Regions from separate parts of the Homo sapiens genome. Here all the other regions are linked to region 1. The links come from fine-mapping of genetic effects on gene expression. A gene starts in region 1. Each other region holds a variant in brackets. All regions are shown on one strand. Distances are between the middles of the regions.

Region 1 (5,224 bases):
AGAAATCTGTGTTCTTATTATAAGCTCTTTGGGAATAACGATACTGATTTTTTCAATAGTACCTGAACACATGGTAGGTTCTTAACATCTGTTGAACCAATGTAAAGTTTATTACTTTAGATCCTAAGAAATTCAAGACTTGAAATAAATAAGCACATTACCCATATGAAATTGTTTTGGTCATTTAATAATATATAATGTTTTGGCGGGGCGCGATGGCTCACGCCTGTAATCCCAGCACTTTGGGAGGCCGAGATGGGCGGATCACTTGAGGTCAGCAGTTCGAGACTAGCCTGGCCAACATGGTGAAACCCCGTCTCTACTGAAAATACAAAAAAATTAGCCAGGCATGGTGGCATGCACCACCCCTGGTAGTCCCAGCCACTTGGGAGGCTGAGGCAGGAGAATCGCTTGAACCTGGGAGGTGGCGGTTGCAGTGAGCTGAGATCGCGCCACTGCACTCCAGCCTAGATGACAGAGTGAGACTCCATCTCAAAAAAAAAAAAAATATATATATATATATGTATATATAGTCTTTTGCTTTATTTTTTTTTTTTTGAGGCGGAGTCTCACTCTGTCATCTAGGCTGGAGTGCAGTGGTGCGATCTCAGCTCACTGCAACCTCAGCCTCCCAGGCTCAAGCAATTCACGTTCCTCAGCCTCCTGAGTAGCTGGGATTTACAGGTGTGCACCATCACGCCCAGCTAATTTTTGTATGTTTAGTAGAGACAGGGTTTCACCATGTTGGCCAAACTGGTCTCAAACTCCTGACCTCAGGTCATCCACCTGCTTTGGCCTCCCAGAGTGCTGGGATTACAGACATGAGCCACCATGCCCGGCCTATTTTTGCTTTTTGTGATTGTGTATCCCTTTATATATTATATACTATAAATTCTGATAGTTTCTATTTTGTGAATCAGTAGCCATTTATAGTAGATGTAAATTCCATTAAAAGAATGCAAGTAAAAATATTCATATGTATCGATAATTCAAATTAGGTATTTTTCTCCCGTTATCATGCACGGATAAGCTGACACACTTGTTTATATGTCTCTATGACATTTTCTAGATAGTTTAGATTTGGCATGTGTTTTAATCTCTCCAGTAGCCACTAAACTGCTCTGAGACAAGTATCTGTATCTTATAATTTTTTTGTTTCAAGGAAAAAAAAAGACAAGTGCATTTGAGTTGGTAATTCCAAGAATGGCAGCAGAAGACAGAGCATCTAAAGCAGGAGGCTTGGACCAAAGTGGTTCTGTTGCCTGTAATCCCAGCACTTTGGGAGGCCAAGGCAGGAGGAACTCTTGAACCTGGAAGTTCAAGACCAGCCTGAGCAACATGGCGAGACGACCCCAAAACCCAATCGTCTCTACAAAAAAATTCAAAAATTAAAATAAATAAATAAAGTCGTTTTGTTAACCATTTCTGGGCCATGATAATCGGATGAAACTAAATCCTGAACTAATTTCCCGGGCGCTCTTGGGCTCTGGGCTAAGAACTCCTGAGAGTATGGTCAGTGGTCTGCTGCTGCCTGGAAGCTCCCGGTAAAGGAATGAAACTTCAGGGCAGACAGCATTCACTTCAGGAATGGTCAAGGAAAGCTAAATTCGATCTCACTAGACAGCAGCCCGTGTAAGGTTTGATCCCCTTGGAAGGCCCTTTCCTCTGCTAGAGCTGAAAGCCCTGTCTCCCTCGTTTTCTTTTGCTACGGGATCCAGAGAAAACACCAAAGGGCACTTACTGAGAAGCTGAAAAAAAAAAAAAAAAAAAGCAAACTGGAAAAGAGAAGACACAACAGCTCTGATGCGAGGGAGGCCTCGGCCCCGCCCCCTCCCGCCCCGGGAGAACCTTGGCCGAGCCTGCAGCGCCCGTAATCCCCACCGCACCTGCTGCGGGAGGGCCCGCGGCAGCTGTCTCGCTGAGGCTAGGGGGCGGGGGGCAAGGGCACGAAACGCAAGGACGTGCGGTGTCACTTTCTGCACGGGCTCTAAACAGATCGCAGCAATCCCGGTAGGTCCGGTACTGAAAGAGAATCACGCAATTTGCGCTGGGGGGCCTCAGACGCGGACCAACCCCCTCTTCGATCTGCCTTCTAAGGCCCGGAAATAAGTCTCAGCCTCGAGAACTAGAGCACTTCGACCAGGGAGTAGAGGAAGCGTTATTGGGCGTGGTACCCTGGGTTAGGAAACCTGGCTGTAGACCCACTCCAAGGACCGCACTCACCGAATTGCTGGGCTGAGGTGGGGGTTGAAAGCCGCTGTCAAGGCGTGACCCGGAAGCAGAAGCTGTCGGGGGCAGGCCCTCTGTTTACCGGACTAGAAGACCAACTAAGATGGGCGCCTGCGCACTGATGAGTGTTCGTCAGCGGGGCGCGCCTGCGCAGACTTGTGCAGCAGCTTTCGCCCTCCAGAGGCCTAGTTAGGGGGTTACTTTCTCCTTTTACTCAGAGGCTTTGCGCGCAGGCTCAGTGCAGCGTTCTCGGCCACAGCCGCAGGGTTCGGGTCTTGGTCCTGCAGCGGGGATAAAAAAGCTCAGGAACCCTGAGTGTTGGGCCGATTCTATATGGTTGCACCTGCGTGGACCAGGCCAGCAGGGGTCCATCCACAATGGTTCAGTTGCTTAGGAGACTAAACTCTTAGTAGGAAGTGTCTTTGACAAAAATACTTACAGCATTATTCATAATGGTGGAACGAATCTATGCTCCTTAGAACCCTCCTGTACATGTCCACCCTCCTTCAAGTAAACCATATCAAAGACAAACTCAACCACCCAAGAGGTGTAGTATTCTAAATGTAGAGGAATAAATGACCTTTATAACTCTTATTAGGGTTAATGAAACTTCCCGCACAAAAACATGATGACACCTCTGAGTGACAGACTTTCTGTGCAAAGCATAAACATTTTGAAGTCAGCAGCACATGGTGGTGGTGCATGGAAGGAGTGAAGCAGCAGCCCATTTAGGCAGACTGCAAGAGTTGTGGTCTGCCCGGTAGCCTGTTTAACCAGAGTGCCCCACACCTACTCCCCAGAGCTTGTTCTAAGCAACCAAATCTAACCAATTAGAGATTTAAAGCAGGCCCAGACAGATCATGTACATCAGTAAGAGGATGGTAAACTGAAAGTTCATGACCTGGTCTGAGGAGTGGGCCTCCTTTGAGCTCCAGACTCAAAGGAATTTTGCCAGGTAGGAATATGCCCTCCACTTCCTGCCACTGCACCATGGTGAGATCGTCCATTTTTCAAAAGAAGCTGAAATACAGATTTTTTTTAAAAAGTGAATTTTTCCAAGTTGCAAATGTTGGCAATGTTTTTATTATTATTATTATTATTATTATTATTATCATCATCATTATTTATTTTTGAGATGTAGTTTCGCTCTTCTCACCCAGGCTGGAGTGCAATGGCGTGATCTCGGCTGGCTGCAACCTCAGCCTTCCGGGTTCAAGTGATTCTCCTGCCTCAGCCTCCTGAGTAACTGAGACTACAGTCACCTGCCACCACACCTGGCTAATTTTTTTTTTGTATTTTTATTAGAGATGGGGTTTCACCATGTTGGCCAGGCTGGTCTCAAACTCCTGACCTCAGGTGATCCACCCTCCTCGGCCTCCCAAAGTGCTGGGATTACAGGCATGAGTCACCACACTGGACCACATCTCTCAAATTTCTTGGTTGGGAAATGCTGAAGTATATAAATTCTGGGAAACCATCAGCATCTTACAAATGTAAGAATGAGCGGAGTCTCCCAGGGAGTGATAAAATAGGCTCTCAATACAGGTTATTTTACTTATTTATTGAAAAACTGAGTACACTTTTATTTTACTTGGCCTGCAACTCAGTATATGCAGAAAACTACTCTATGTCACACTCATGATCAATATCTTCTTATTTCCATTTGGCATGTCATTGAAAACCTAGCCCATCACTTAGCTAAAAATCACATAAGAGACCCCTAGAGAAATCAAACTAACTTTTTTTCCCCCCAAACAATAGATCTCATCTTTATTAGTCAAATCAGTACCTGCTGATAGGGCAGTGGAGCAAGCCTGACAGTGATATTCATTAACAAAGAAGACAAAACTTATGCTTTCAAGTACAAAGATAAACTTTGAATGGCAGAGAGCCTAATCTGACTATCATCAGCCACCAAGAACACAGAAGAGCAAATAACTCAAGAAGAGAGAAGCCAAAGTGCTATAAAAATTATTCTTTTCTGTGAAATTCAGTTCCACAGCCTGTATGAGCAAGGGTCCAAAACACTGGAGAGCCAATAAAGCTGCTGGGAGGGCCCATTCATAATGGGAGATGCACTGGCTGTGCCTCCCTTGCTGTGTCCTTCCATGAGCGTCCTCCACTCTTCACTGACTTCATTTAGACTTGGTCCTCTGGTCTCACCACAGCTACCTGGGAGACTTTGAGTTGTAATCTTACAGTTTCAAGAGTCTATTTTGACTGAACCCAGGAGTAACATGCCAATCCAAAATAGAAACATTCTCATGGTACAATGGTGCAAAGGTCATTCTGTAGGTTGCATATATATAACATATATATATACACACAATATATATATTACATATGTACTATATATTACAGATATACTATATATATTACATATATATACACAATATATATATTTCTATGGAAGACAAAGCTTCCTTTTTTTTTTTTTTTTGAGATGAAGTCTCACTCTGTCACCCAGGCTGGAGTGCAGTGGCACGATCTCAGCTCACTGCAACCTCCACCCACCTCCCGGGTTCAAGCAATTCTCCTGCCTTGGCCTCCTGAGTAGCTGGGGTTACAGGCGGGCACCATCACACCTGGCTAATTTTTGTATTTTTAGTAGAGACAGGGTATCACCATGATGGCCAGGCTGGTGTCGAACTCCTGACCTCAGGTGTTCCACCCACTTCGGTCTCCAAAAGTGTTGGGATTACAGGCGTGAGCCACCGCGCCTGGCTGCTTCCTTCCTCTTTAACAAGAGAATATTGCACCCAGCATCACTGCTTTGGCTAGCTCTTTTTTCCTGTGTGCCCTCATGTGTGCAGCAATTGAACTGGCTAACAATTTCTGCATTCTTCCTGGTCTGGCCAAAATAATCTGGAAACTCACCATCTGGCCCAATCAAAGACATTGTTATTGTATGATTCACTAACATGGTCTTCATCTTCATCCTTGGGGCTAGAGCTGTAATATACTCTGTATGCTCTGGCCACGTGATTGATCTCTT
Region 2 (5,224 bases), 140 kb before region 1:
TGAAGGAGAGTCTCTCTGTGCCATCCAATATGGTAGCTACTAGCCACGTGTGGTGACTGAGCACATAAAATGTGGCTAACACAGTGAAGGAACTGAATTTCTAAAGTTTAAGTTGTTTTAAGGTTTAATTAAGCAGCAGCCTGTGTGGCTGTTAGCTACCATGTTAGACAATGCAGTGTGCTCTTGCTACTTGAAGTGGGGTCTGCAGACCAGCAGCATCTCATCACCTGGGAGCTTGTTAGAAGTACAGTAGTTCGGCCGGGCGCAGTGGCTCATGCCTGTAATCCCAGCACTTTGGGAGGCTGAGGTGGGCAGACGACCAGGTCAGGAGTTCGAGACCAGCCTGACCAACATGGTGAAACCCTGTCTCTACTAAAAACACAAAAATTAACTGGGTGTGGTGGCATGCACCTATAATCCCAGCTACTCAGGAGGCTGAGGCAGGAGAATCACTTGAACCCGGGAGGCGGAGGTTGCAGCAGTGAGCCGAGATTGCGCCACTGCACTCCAGCTTGGGTGACAGTGCGAGACTCCGTCTAAAAAAAAAAAAAAGAAGTACAGAAGTTCAGGTCCCACCCCAGACCTGCTGAATCAGAATCTTCATTTAATAAGATCCTGAGGTCATTTGTTTACATGTTAAGGTTTCAGCACTGGTCTGGGTGGGGCAGTAGTTCCCAGTCCTGACTGCATATTGGGATCACTTGGGGAGCTTTTGAAGATCCCAATGTTGTGACTGCACCCCAGAACAATTAAATCAGAATTTTTTTTGGTGGGGGGACCCTGGTCAGTGTTTTTTAAGCCCCCCATGTGATTCCAATCTGTGCCTAAGGTTGAGAACCGCTGCTCTCAAGCTATGCAGCCAGCCAAGGGCACACTCAGATGGTAAGTCCATGTGAGGGCCAACAACTCACTTCTTAGCCTCTAAATTCGCTTGTTGGACCCAGCTAACTGGGAAGCCAAAGGGACTTATTCATCCTCAGCAAGTGTAAGAATTGGCTGGGGCTTATGTTTGTTTCCAACATCTAAGTGAGATGTTCATCAGGTTTTCACAAAACGTGTCTAAATACCACACCACTGAAGGGTACAGAAGCAGCCTGCATGACTGAAGGCTGGGAAGAGTTGATTCACTTCCTCACTCTGGGACCTGGATAACCCTGGCATCCCAGAGCAGTCCCGATGAAGGGAGCCATTCTTCCTGTCCAGGGTGGAGGCCACTGTTTTTTCCAATGTCACTTGTCTTTAGCTGCCCTCCTGCAGCTCGGCAAGAATGCGAGGGGCACTGGGGCCAATGAGAAGAGGTGGGTTTTCCTGAAGAGCGGGATTCTCTCATCCTGTTGATCTGAACAGGACCTCAGAGGCCCCAGCCACTTTCTAGTGATGAATGACATTTGCAGAGATGAAGCTTCATCTCTGAGCTGGTGAGGATTTGGGAAGAGCATTCTGAAACCAGCCTCTCGGGAAATGGGTTGCATGAGCAGCCAGGCCGTCCCAAGGGGTGGAGCTGCAGCCCCCATGTGGAACATGGGTTTGAAGTCTCACTGAGAAATGTTATCCTGGACTTGGGTGATGGGGAGGTGCAAGTCATTCACTCTGGAAATGGGATTCCCTAACTAGATGATTATTAACTAATTTGTCTCAACATGTCCACAGAATGTCCTAAGCTTTGTATTCACAGCTGTTCTCATGCATTCATTCCATGCCGGCCTTAGAGGACTCGGTCAAGACAATGGTGCCCTCAGGAAGGTTACGAGAGAGCAAGCTGTGCTGCTTTGCCCATCTTGGGATGAGGTGAGAGGGCAGCACTGGTTGGGTCCCAGGATACCGGGCAGGGCACCTCTGTTGCTGTCCCTTCCTCCTATGGGGTACCAAGCTTCTCTCAGATATCCTTAGAAAGCTTTGTTAGCCAGCAGGTCGCTGGGCCATAAGCCACATGTGAATGAGGCTCTCCCTGTCCCCTGACTAGGTCTGAGCACAGTTCCAGGGGAGAAAGAGGGAGGAGGCGCGGGAGCATTGTCCCCCTCCTGTCGCTGGTAGGTGAGCTTGTGTCCAGTGGAAACAAAGAGAAAGCTGGCCAAATGTTGTTATCTCCCCCAGCTGCCTGGATTCTATTGCCATCCCTTGTCCCCATGAAGACTCCCTGTCATCTCACCCGCACTATTGTCTGGGCTGTACAATTAGCACTTTGTTAAATGTTCTCTCATTCTTCAGTGGCACTTCATTACTGAGCCATAAAACAACGGGGCCCAGCAGGTTCCTGGGCAGTCAAATGGTCCAACCCTCTTGACTTAGAGATGCGGAAAATGAGGCCTTGGGGACAATGCTGTGTCCAGCCATAATGGAGCCCACAGCAAAAGGAAGAATCAGTAATATTGATCCTATATTTATTTAAATGTCTGGTATTTTGTTCATTATAGATTTTTGCATTAATTTTTATTTTTAAAATGTTACATTAAAATAGTCTGTATCTTGATGACTGAGTATTTTTGGTGCCTCTTAAAGTGTGCACCCTGAGCCTGGCCCTGACAGGGACAATAGGGAGTTGCCCAAGGTGACACTAGTTTTGATCAAGAGGTTAAAAGAGAGCTTGGGTCTTCCAACTTGTCCACTTCCTTCTTCTCTGTCAGCTTCAAGTGCAAAGTCCTGTTTTTCCAAATAAGTAGAGAGCTCCAGCAGGCAGGGTGGTGAACTTGTGGAATAATAACACTTTCACATGGTTATTGCCCAGCCAAAGAAGCAACCATTTGAAAATTCAAGAAATTGCAGATTTATTCCTTAAATAAGGCACTGTTGTTGAAATAGTATCAAAATATTGATACTGCAATGAGATAAGAGACCTAGGAACACATGCCAGAATGTGGACCGTTGGCCCAGCCCAATCCTCTCTCACCTGCACTGCTTCAGAAACCCCTTCCTTTCCTTCCAAACCCAGCTGACATCTTTCCAAAGAGTTTTGTGTTTCTGATCGGGCTTCGCTGCACTTGTGTTTCTCCCACTCATCTGGTTCTCAGGGCATAGAACACAGCCCCAGGTACACAGAGAGTGAACAATCTTCAACAACTGGGCACCAAGGATCCTGCTCCTTTTTCTTTGTAATAGCTGCATGACATGGTCTTCTCCTGTATCGATGTACAAG[C/T]TGCCTATTGATAGACTTTCAGTTGCTTCTTTTTGTTCTCTCTCTCTCTCTTGTTCTCTCTTTTCTTATCTTTTTGGCCCCCTTTTTCTCCAGTGTTCTCCACTGCAGAGTCGTGTAATTCCCTCACAGTTTTCTCAGAGCGAGTACATATTCCCTGCCCAGCATCAGCGTTGCTTGCCATTAATGTCCTGTATCTATAGGGATGACCATGCCCCCTTGGAGGAAAGGCTTGGAACTTACCAACTTATGGAAACTTACGGAAATCATCACTTGGTATTGAGATTTTGCAGGGAACACACTCCTTAAAAATCTCCATGAGTGTGCTGTTAAGAATCCCATAAAGAGGGAGAAAGGTGGGAAGTGAGTGAAGCAAGGCTCAGCCGCCACCACGAACAAAGTGGGGTCCACTTTGCATCTGCTGCAAAGGAAGGAACGGACATTTGGCCTGTCTCCTCTTCCTTTATTGTGTCATGTTCTTTCCTTTACTCTTCTCTTTTTTAAAACAAGAAAATCATAATTTTAATATTATTTTAAAAATAGACAATACATTCACACAATTCAAAATTCCAGTAGTTGGCCAGACACAGTGGCTCATGCTTGTAATCCCGGCACTTTGGGAGGCTGAGGCAGGAGGGTCGCTTGAAGCCAGGAGTTCAAGACAAGCCTGGGTAGCATAGTGCAGACCCCATCTCTACAGAAAATTTTTTTAAATTAGCCAAGCGTGGTGACGCACATCTGTAGTCCCAGCTACTTAGGAGGCTGAGGTGGCAGAATCAATTGAGCCCAGGAGATTGAGGCTGCAGCAAGCTGTGATCACATCCCTGCACTCCAGCCTGGGCAACAAAGTGAGACCCTGTCAAAAACAAAAAAAAAATTCCAAAGGTACAAAAGGTGACGTCTCCTCCGCTTCCACTCATTCCCCTCCCCATAGAGGACCAATATTATTAGTTCTCAGGTCTCCTTCCAGAGAGATTCCAAGCATATGCAAGCAACTGTGTTTAAAAATCATCCCTCACTCCCATCTCAAATGGTAAAAATCACCCCTCTCCTCTCTTGGCACAAATGGTAATATACTCCACACACTGGTCTACACAGGACTTTTTCACTTTCTGTGTCCTGGAAAGATTCCACACCCACACGTTTCTGAAATTCTCACTATTTTAATATTGCTTAATATTCCATTATACAGATATACCATAATTTATTTAAGCAGTCCCCTTCTGATGGACATTCGGGTTATCTCTAGCCTTTTGCTGAGATAATGCTGCAGTAAATATTTGTGTATATGCCATTTTGCACTTGCACATTTATCTGTTGGATAATTTCCTAGAAGCAGAATTGCTGGGTCAAAATTGAAGTGCATTAAAAAAATTTGACAGATAAATTCCCTTTAACACTGCATGCACCATTCCCATCAACAATGTATGCCAAAGCCTATTTCACCAAACCTTTGCCAGCTACCACCGTCATGGTTTGCAGAGGACAAATCTCACCACCATAGCCACTCCTTGTATAGTAATCAGTTCTTTTGGTCCTTGCCAATCTGAAAAGTGAAAAATGCTGTCTCAGGGTGGTTTTAATTTGTATTTTCTTTCTTTCCTTTTTTTTTTTTTTTTGTATTGGTTTTGCTTCATTTTCTGGGAACTGTCGGTTCATATGCTTTGCTTTTCTATTCAACTGTTGTTCTCTTTCTTATTTGATTTACATGAGATCTTTATATAGAACATTACCTCTTGCCTATAATAAGAGTTGCAGGTAATTCTTCATGATTTTTCATTTTGACTTTTTTTTTTTTTTTTTTTTTTTTGACACAGAGTTTCGCTCTTGTTGCCCAGGCTGGAGTGCAGTGGCACAATCTCGGCTCACTGCAACCTCTGCCTCCCGGGATCAAGCGAAATCTCCTGCCTCTGTCTCCCAAGTAGCTGGGACTACAGGCATGCACCACCATGCCCGACTAATTTTTGTATTTTTAGTAGAGATGGGGTTTTACCTTGTTGGCCAGGATTGTCTTGAACTCCTGACCTCAAGTGATCCGCCTGCCTCGGCCTCCCAAAGTGCTGGGATTACAGGCATGAGACACTGTGCCTGGCC
Region 3 (5,224 bases), 320 kb before region 1:
GGGAGCAGTCACAGATTTCAATGAAGCAAGAGGAAGTGCATCGGAATCCCAAGTGGGAGAGAATATCAAGAAGGAGAGACTCGCACACGGTTGCAGTTGACAATGCTTTAAAATCATTTTTTTGTTGTTGTTTGTTTTTGTTTGAGATGAAGTCTTGCTCTGTGGCCCAGGCTGGAGTGCAATGGCATGATCAGGGCTCACTGCAACCTCCGACTCCCAGGTTCAAGTGATTCTCCTGCCTCAGCCTCCCGAGTAGCTGGGACTACAGGCACCCGCCACCAAGCCCGGCTAATTTCTATATTTTTAGTAGAGACAGGGTTTCACCATGTTGGCCAGGCTGGTCTGACCTCAGGCAATCTGCCTGCCTCGGCCTCCCAAAGTGCTGGGATTACAGGTATGAGCCACCGCACCCGGCCCTAAAATCATTCTTATAAAGAGAGCTCACACAAACTGTTAAGAAGCACTAGAACAGTGGAGACTAAAGTTCAAAGCCCAGAAACAGACTCTCCTGGTACAGAGGAAACACAACTCACAAGCAGAGGTAGGGGTATGTTCAACCTGATCGTCCTCAAAGTAATGCCAATTAAAATGAGACAAAGGTAGGTGCCTTTTTGAAACATTAGCGAGAGCTCGGTGAAGTGTGTGTGCTGTCGGTAATGGCGTAACCTCTTTTGAAATCAGTTTGGCAATATATAGTAAGAGCTATAATGTGCTGTTACCCTTTGGCTCAATAACCCCACCCAGTGTATCCTAAACTAGATTTCTATAGTCAAAATTGGGGGAGGAGGAGCGGAGTATGTGCCTAATGATGTCCCCCATCACACTGCCTATAATATAGAAAATTAGAGACAATTTGAACACTTATGATTGGAAAATTGTGGAGGTAAATTATGATACTATATTTCCACTTAATAGAAAACTATGAAGCTGTTAGGAAGATGTTTATATGCAACACAGCATCACAAGAGAATAGAGATTGGTACATACCCCATGATTGCAACTGTATTAAAAAACATATAGGCATGGAGGAGAAGGTGAAGAGGAAATATGTGTCATAGGTAATGATTATGTAGGGTGGAATGGGTATATATGGTTTTGGTCTCATTTAATGAGTCTTAACATTGCGGAGAGCGGGAATGAGGGTTGACCAGAAGCTGAGATTTGGGTCTCAGCTATAGCAAGGGCCCTGACAACCTTCCAGAGGCCACAAATGCATTTATCTGGCAACTTAATAGACTGAGCTCCGACCGCAAGGCAGGTGCGGTCACTGTGGGTATCAACTCAGCATTCTCCTGATAGGAAAAAGCCCACCGTGAGGGGTGATGGCCAGGTGCTCACTGCAGATTCCCTCCCATATATGGGAGGCTCCTGGAGCTCCATAGTCTCCTCTACTACTGCTGAGGAGCAGGCCATGGCAGGCGCCTGTGGGGACAGCCCCCAGAGGACAGGGCTGACTGCAGGAGGAACAGAGCATCACAGTGAGGTGAGCTCAGCGGGTATGAGGGCCTCTCTGCTTTGGGGTGGGGGTTGGCGGGCTGTGGTCGGCCACCTGCTGTTTCACATCACCCCCTGAAGGTGACATGAGATGCAGGGGCCATCACCTTCACGGCGCCCCCAGGAACTCTACCCGGGCCCCCACCTACAGGCGCCATTAGGCCTCCTGCTCCTCCCCGTTCCACTCTCTTCCCACAACAACACACTGGGGCCTTGAAATAACACATCTTTCTTTACGCCATCATTTCCACAGAATTTGCCTATGATTCATTTGTTGTCAAGAGGTATTAAAACCTCCAGCTCCCAGGCACCCTGGTCTTTGTTCCCCTCCCTCCTAGGTCCCACCACTCCCCTTCCCACGGTGTCCTGCCCAGCTCTTACCCAGTCTCCCTGAGCCCCAGCATCCCAAACTCAGCGCCGCTGCCCCCACAACCACCCCCCAACCTCCTCCCCACTTGGCCTCTTGAGGAACAGTGGGAAGGGGCTGGGGCAGGTCCACATGGCACCCACCCACCTCCCCAGCCCAGCTCCACCAGAGGAGGGCCCTGCTGGGGGCCTCTAGCCTTAGGACTTGGAGATGAAGCCCTGGAAACTCTTTGCCTAAAAACAGGAGGCAGTGGAACCCTCAGCCCCAGAAGCTGCCCCTTTCTGTGACTCCCCAACCCCCTCACTTGGGCAGGATGGATTTTCCTCATACCTCGAGGCCTGGTCCCTGGGTCCCTCCCCGTCACTGTTTCTGACTAGGCACAGGGGTATAGAGTTTCCACCGTGTGTGTGTGTGTGTGTGTGTGTGTGTGTGCGCGCGCGCGCGTGCGCGCGCACGCGTGTATGTTGGGGAGTAGGAAGAGCTGTCTTCTCACACCCTCATTACCCAGTAAGGCTTTGGGGTTCCCCTCCCAGTCCCTCCCCAGGGCTGTGTAGGTGTGTCAGGGAGCTAGAAGGTGGGGGTGGCAGGAGAGGAAGAGGGCGATGGGCGAGGGAGCTGGGGGGCTGCTG[G/C]GAGCCTGGCTGGGGTGACAGGAGCTGCTGTGGTCGGGTTATCTGATGTGAGGAGACAGGTGTGCAGCTTCGAGGCTCTGGGGGTGGGGGAAGAGCAGCCTGAGAGAGAAGTAGAAACAGTAGAAGCAGCCTGGAGCCAGCGAGGTAGACAGGAAAGACAGAGATGGGAGAAAAGAGCCTTAGTGAACCCAGGAAGGCCTCTCCCCAGAGGAGGATCACTTTTTTCCTCAAGTTCTGGAGGCAACACCAGAGCAGGCAGGCAGGTGGGCAGGGGGGTGTCCCCAGCCTCTGCCGTGGTCCAACTTCCCCAGCTCGCCAGCTCCCAGGGAACCAGGCAGCCTCCCCTCAACACTGTGGGGCTGATGGGCTCGAAGGTCCAGCCTTATCCCTGAATCAGAGCAGTTGGAGACAGTTGAGGCTCTATAATCTCGGTTGGGGGTTAACGGGTGGAGGAGGCTTTGCAGGAGGAGATAATGGGGCAGACCTCAGGTCTTCCGCACTACCCACCAGCACAACACCGTGGAGCTGGGGGAGTAAGCGGAGTTGTTGGCACCATGGGCCGGGCCAGGCGTGCGTCTGCCATCCTAGGAGCTGGGTTGAGGGCCAGCTTGGCCTTTCACAAGAGGGGTCCACCTGTGAATCCCTGCTTCTACCCCGTCTATCCCTGACTTGGAATGTGTTGGAGGAGCTGCTTATAAGGAAGACGATATCAGGTTAGACGTTATCTCTTTAGAGGAGAGGGTCCCCAGAGGATGATGAAAATTACAGTAATAAAGGCTAACATTTACCGAGCACCGAACTCCATGCCAAGCGCAATTCTAAATACTACATAGTAGCTCATGTGGTCTTCACAACACCTAGGAAGTAAGTACCATTACTCTCTTTGCTTTACAGAAGACAGACAAATAGCCAGCAGTTCCACAGCGACTCAGGGGACTGCCAGGGTTCAAATCCTGCTCCTGCTAGATGCCACTTCTGCTGCTCTTCATTGCTGCCCTAGACAAGGCCAGGCCCTGCGGCGTGCTGCGAGCCTTCCTTCCGTTATCTTTACCAGCTCTACATGGTCATTCACAGATGAGAAAGCTGAAGATCAGAGAGCTCACACATTTCCCACAAGGTTACACAGTCAGTAAGAGACACTATCAGGATTCCAATGACCTGCTGTTAAAGTTCATCTCTTATTCACTCATTGCCTCCCTCAAGGCTGAAGAGTGGGGTGGAGGGGAGACCAGCAGAGCTACTGAGCTCAATCTGCCTCCTTGGCCCTCCCAGCCCAGAGCTCTGCCAGCGGTGGTAGGAGGAGTGTGGTAAGTATTTGCTGATGAATGAACAACCGAAGGACAAAATAATGAACTGTCATCTTCCAAGGCAAAGGATTGCAGAAGCCACTGATATCCTGCCCACCGCCCTCCCCATCCACTCCTCTACCACCTCCAGTCCTTCCTGTGAACACAGCAGAGGCAGGAGCCTCTTGGGGTGGGGTCCCTATCAGGGAGGAAGTGCAGCTGGCTTCTCCCCCACCCCCTTTATCACTTCTCCCCCATCCCTACTTTATCACCCAGGGCCTCCACAATCCCCTCCCTGTCCCTCTCCGGGGGCTCCTGGGTAGGAGAGGGAAAGACATGTAAATCAGTGGGGCTAGGGGAAGTGGAGGAAGCAGAAAGGATACCAGGAGCATTTCCCCTACACGCTTAACCTGGGGCTCACAGTCCTTGCCAGGCTGGGCCAGTGGCTTAGGGGACCAAGCCCTTCCTGATAGGCCGCTTGATCTATCTGGCCAGCCTAGTAGGCAAATGGGGAAATAGTAGTCAGGAGTTGACAAAGTTGGGGCACCTGCCCTCACTTTGGCCCTAGCCCCATGCCGGCTGCCACAGATGTTCACAGGTGTCTGCAGGATTCTTTTGTTTTTGTTGTTTTTTGACATAGGCTCTCGCTCTATTGCCCAGGCTAGAGTGCAGTGGTGCGATCATGGCTCATTGCAGACTCAACCTCCGGAGCTCAGGCAGTCCTCCCACCTTGGCCCCCCAGGTAGCTAGGACTACAGGCACATGCCACCAGGCCCAGCTAATTTATTTTTAAAATTTGTTTGTAGAGATGCCGCCTCTCTATGTTGCCCAGGCTGGTCTTGAAATCCTGGCCTCAAGTAATCCTCCCTCCCCGGCCTCCCAAAGTGTTGGGATTACAGGCATGAGCCACCATGTCCAGCCAGGATTTGGGATTGGGTCAGGGTGGCATGGGCCTTTCCAGAGGCCCAGTAGGCTTCTGAGTGCAAGTGAAGAGTGCAGCGGGGAGGCCCTACGGAGCTAAATAAGGGCTGTCGACCAGGCTATGTGTGACTTCTCCTTTCACCACCAAGGTCTGGAGGTCTAAGGGGAGCTCTGCCCACTACCCCCAGGAGCTCACGGGAGCTTCTTCCTGCCTTCCTCCTCTCAGCAACCAGTATCTAGGAGGCCATGCCTTCCTTCCCAGAGTCCAGCTCAGACAATTTGCAGAACAACCCAGCTTGAAATTTGATACTTGATCCACCCCTTGTGCATCCCCTAGATCAAATAACCCTGGATCTGTGACCCTTGGCTCAGATCTGTCTAATTCTTAAAGAGTCTGTTCAGACTTGGAGTGAGGCTGTTGAGTCCTGAGGAGGGAGGGGCTGTGGCAGCATTGACAAGTTCCCCGCATTCCTGTGGTACCTGAGTCTTTCCAATGACTCCCCTCACCTGAGGCTCAGTCTCTCATT

Which allele goes with the higher level. Alleles are on the strand shown, and positions count from the first base shown. SD is a standard deviation of normalised expression in the study named. Not every link is listed here.
For the expression in Th2 cells of the gene that starts at base 2,280 in region 1, C is the high allele of the variant in region 3 and G is the other (large effect, 1.2 SD a copy in Schmiedel 2018).

The links. PIP is the estimated chance that this variant, and not a neighbour inherited with it, causes the effect.
Region 2: its variant is fine-mapped to the expression of ASB8 in whole blood (INTERVAL, PIP 0.94).
Region 3: its variant is fine-mapped to the expression of ASB8 in Th2 cells (Schmiedel 2018, PIP 0.95).

The regions. Positions count from the first base shown.
Region 1 is chr12:48,155,236-48,160,459 of GRCh38, forward strand. ASB8 (ankyrin repeat and SOCS box containing 8) reads right to left here and starts at 2,280. Exons shown (of 4, transcript NM_024095.5): 1 at 2,224-2,280. It also overlaps the pseudogene LOC100421855. RefSeq lists enhancers at 2,064-2,586, 2,091-2,140, 2,161-2,210, 2,241-2,460.
Region 2 is chr12:48,015,494-48,020,717 of GRCh38, forward strand. It overlaps LOC105369750 (a long non-coding RNA gene), which reads left to right. Exons shown (of 4, transcript XR_944904.3): 2 at 1,651-1,788. LOC124902927 (a long non-coding RNA gene) reads right to left here. Exons shown (of 2, transcript XR_007063293.1): 2 at 4,278-4,676. Among named protein-coding and RNA genes, the nearest start is that of COL2A1, 14 kb to the left of the region's middle. The variant C/T (reference allele first, on the strand shown) is at 3,134.
Region 3 is chr12:47,830,855-47,836,078 of GRCh38, forward strand. LINC02354 (long intergenic non-protein coding RNA 2354) reads left to right here. Exons shown (of 3, transcript XR_007063292.1): 2 at 3,385-3,797. Among named protein-coding and RNA genes, the nearest start is that of LINC02354, 4.3 kb to the left of the region's middle. RefSeq lists an enhancer at 1,178-1,227. The variant G/C (reference allele first, on the strand shown) is at 2,491.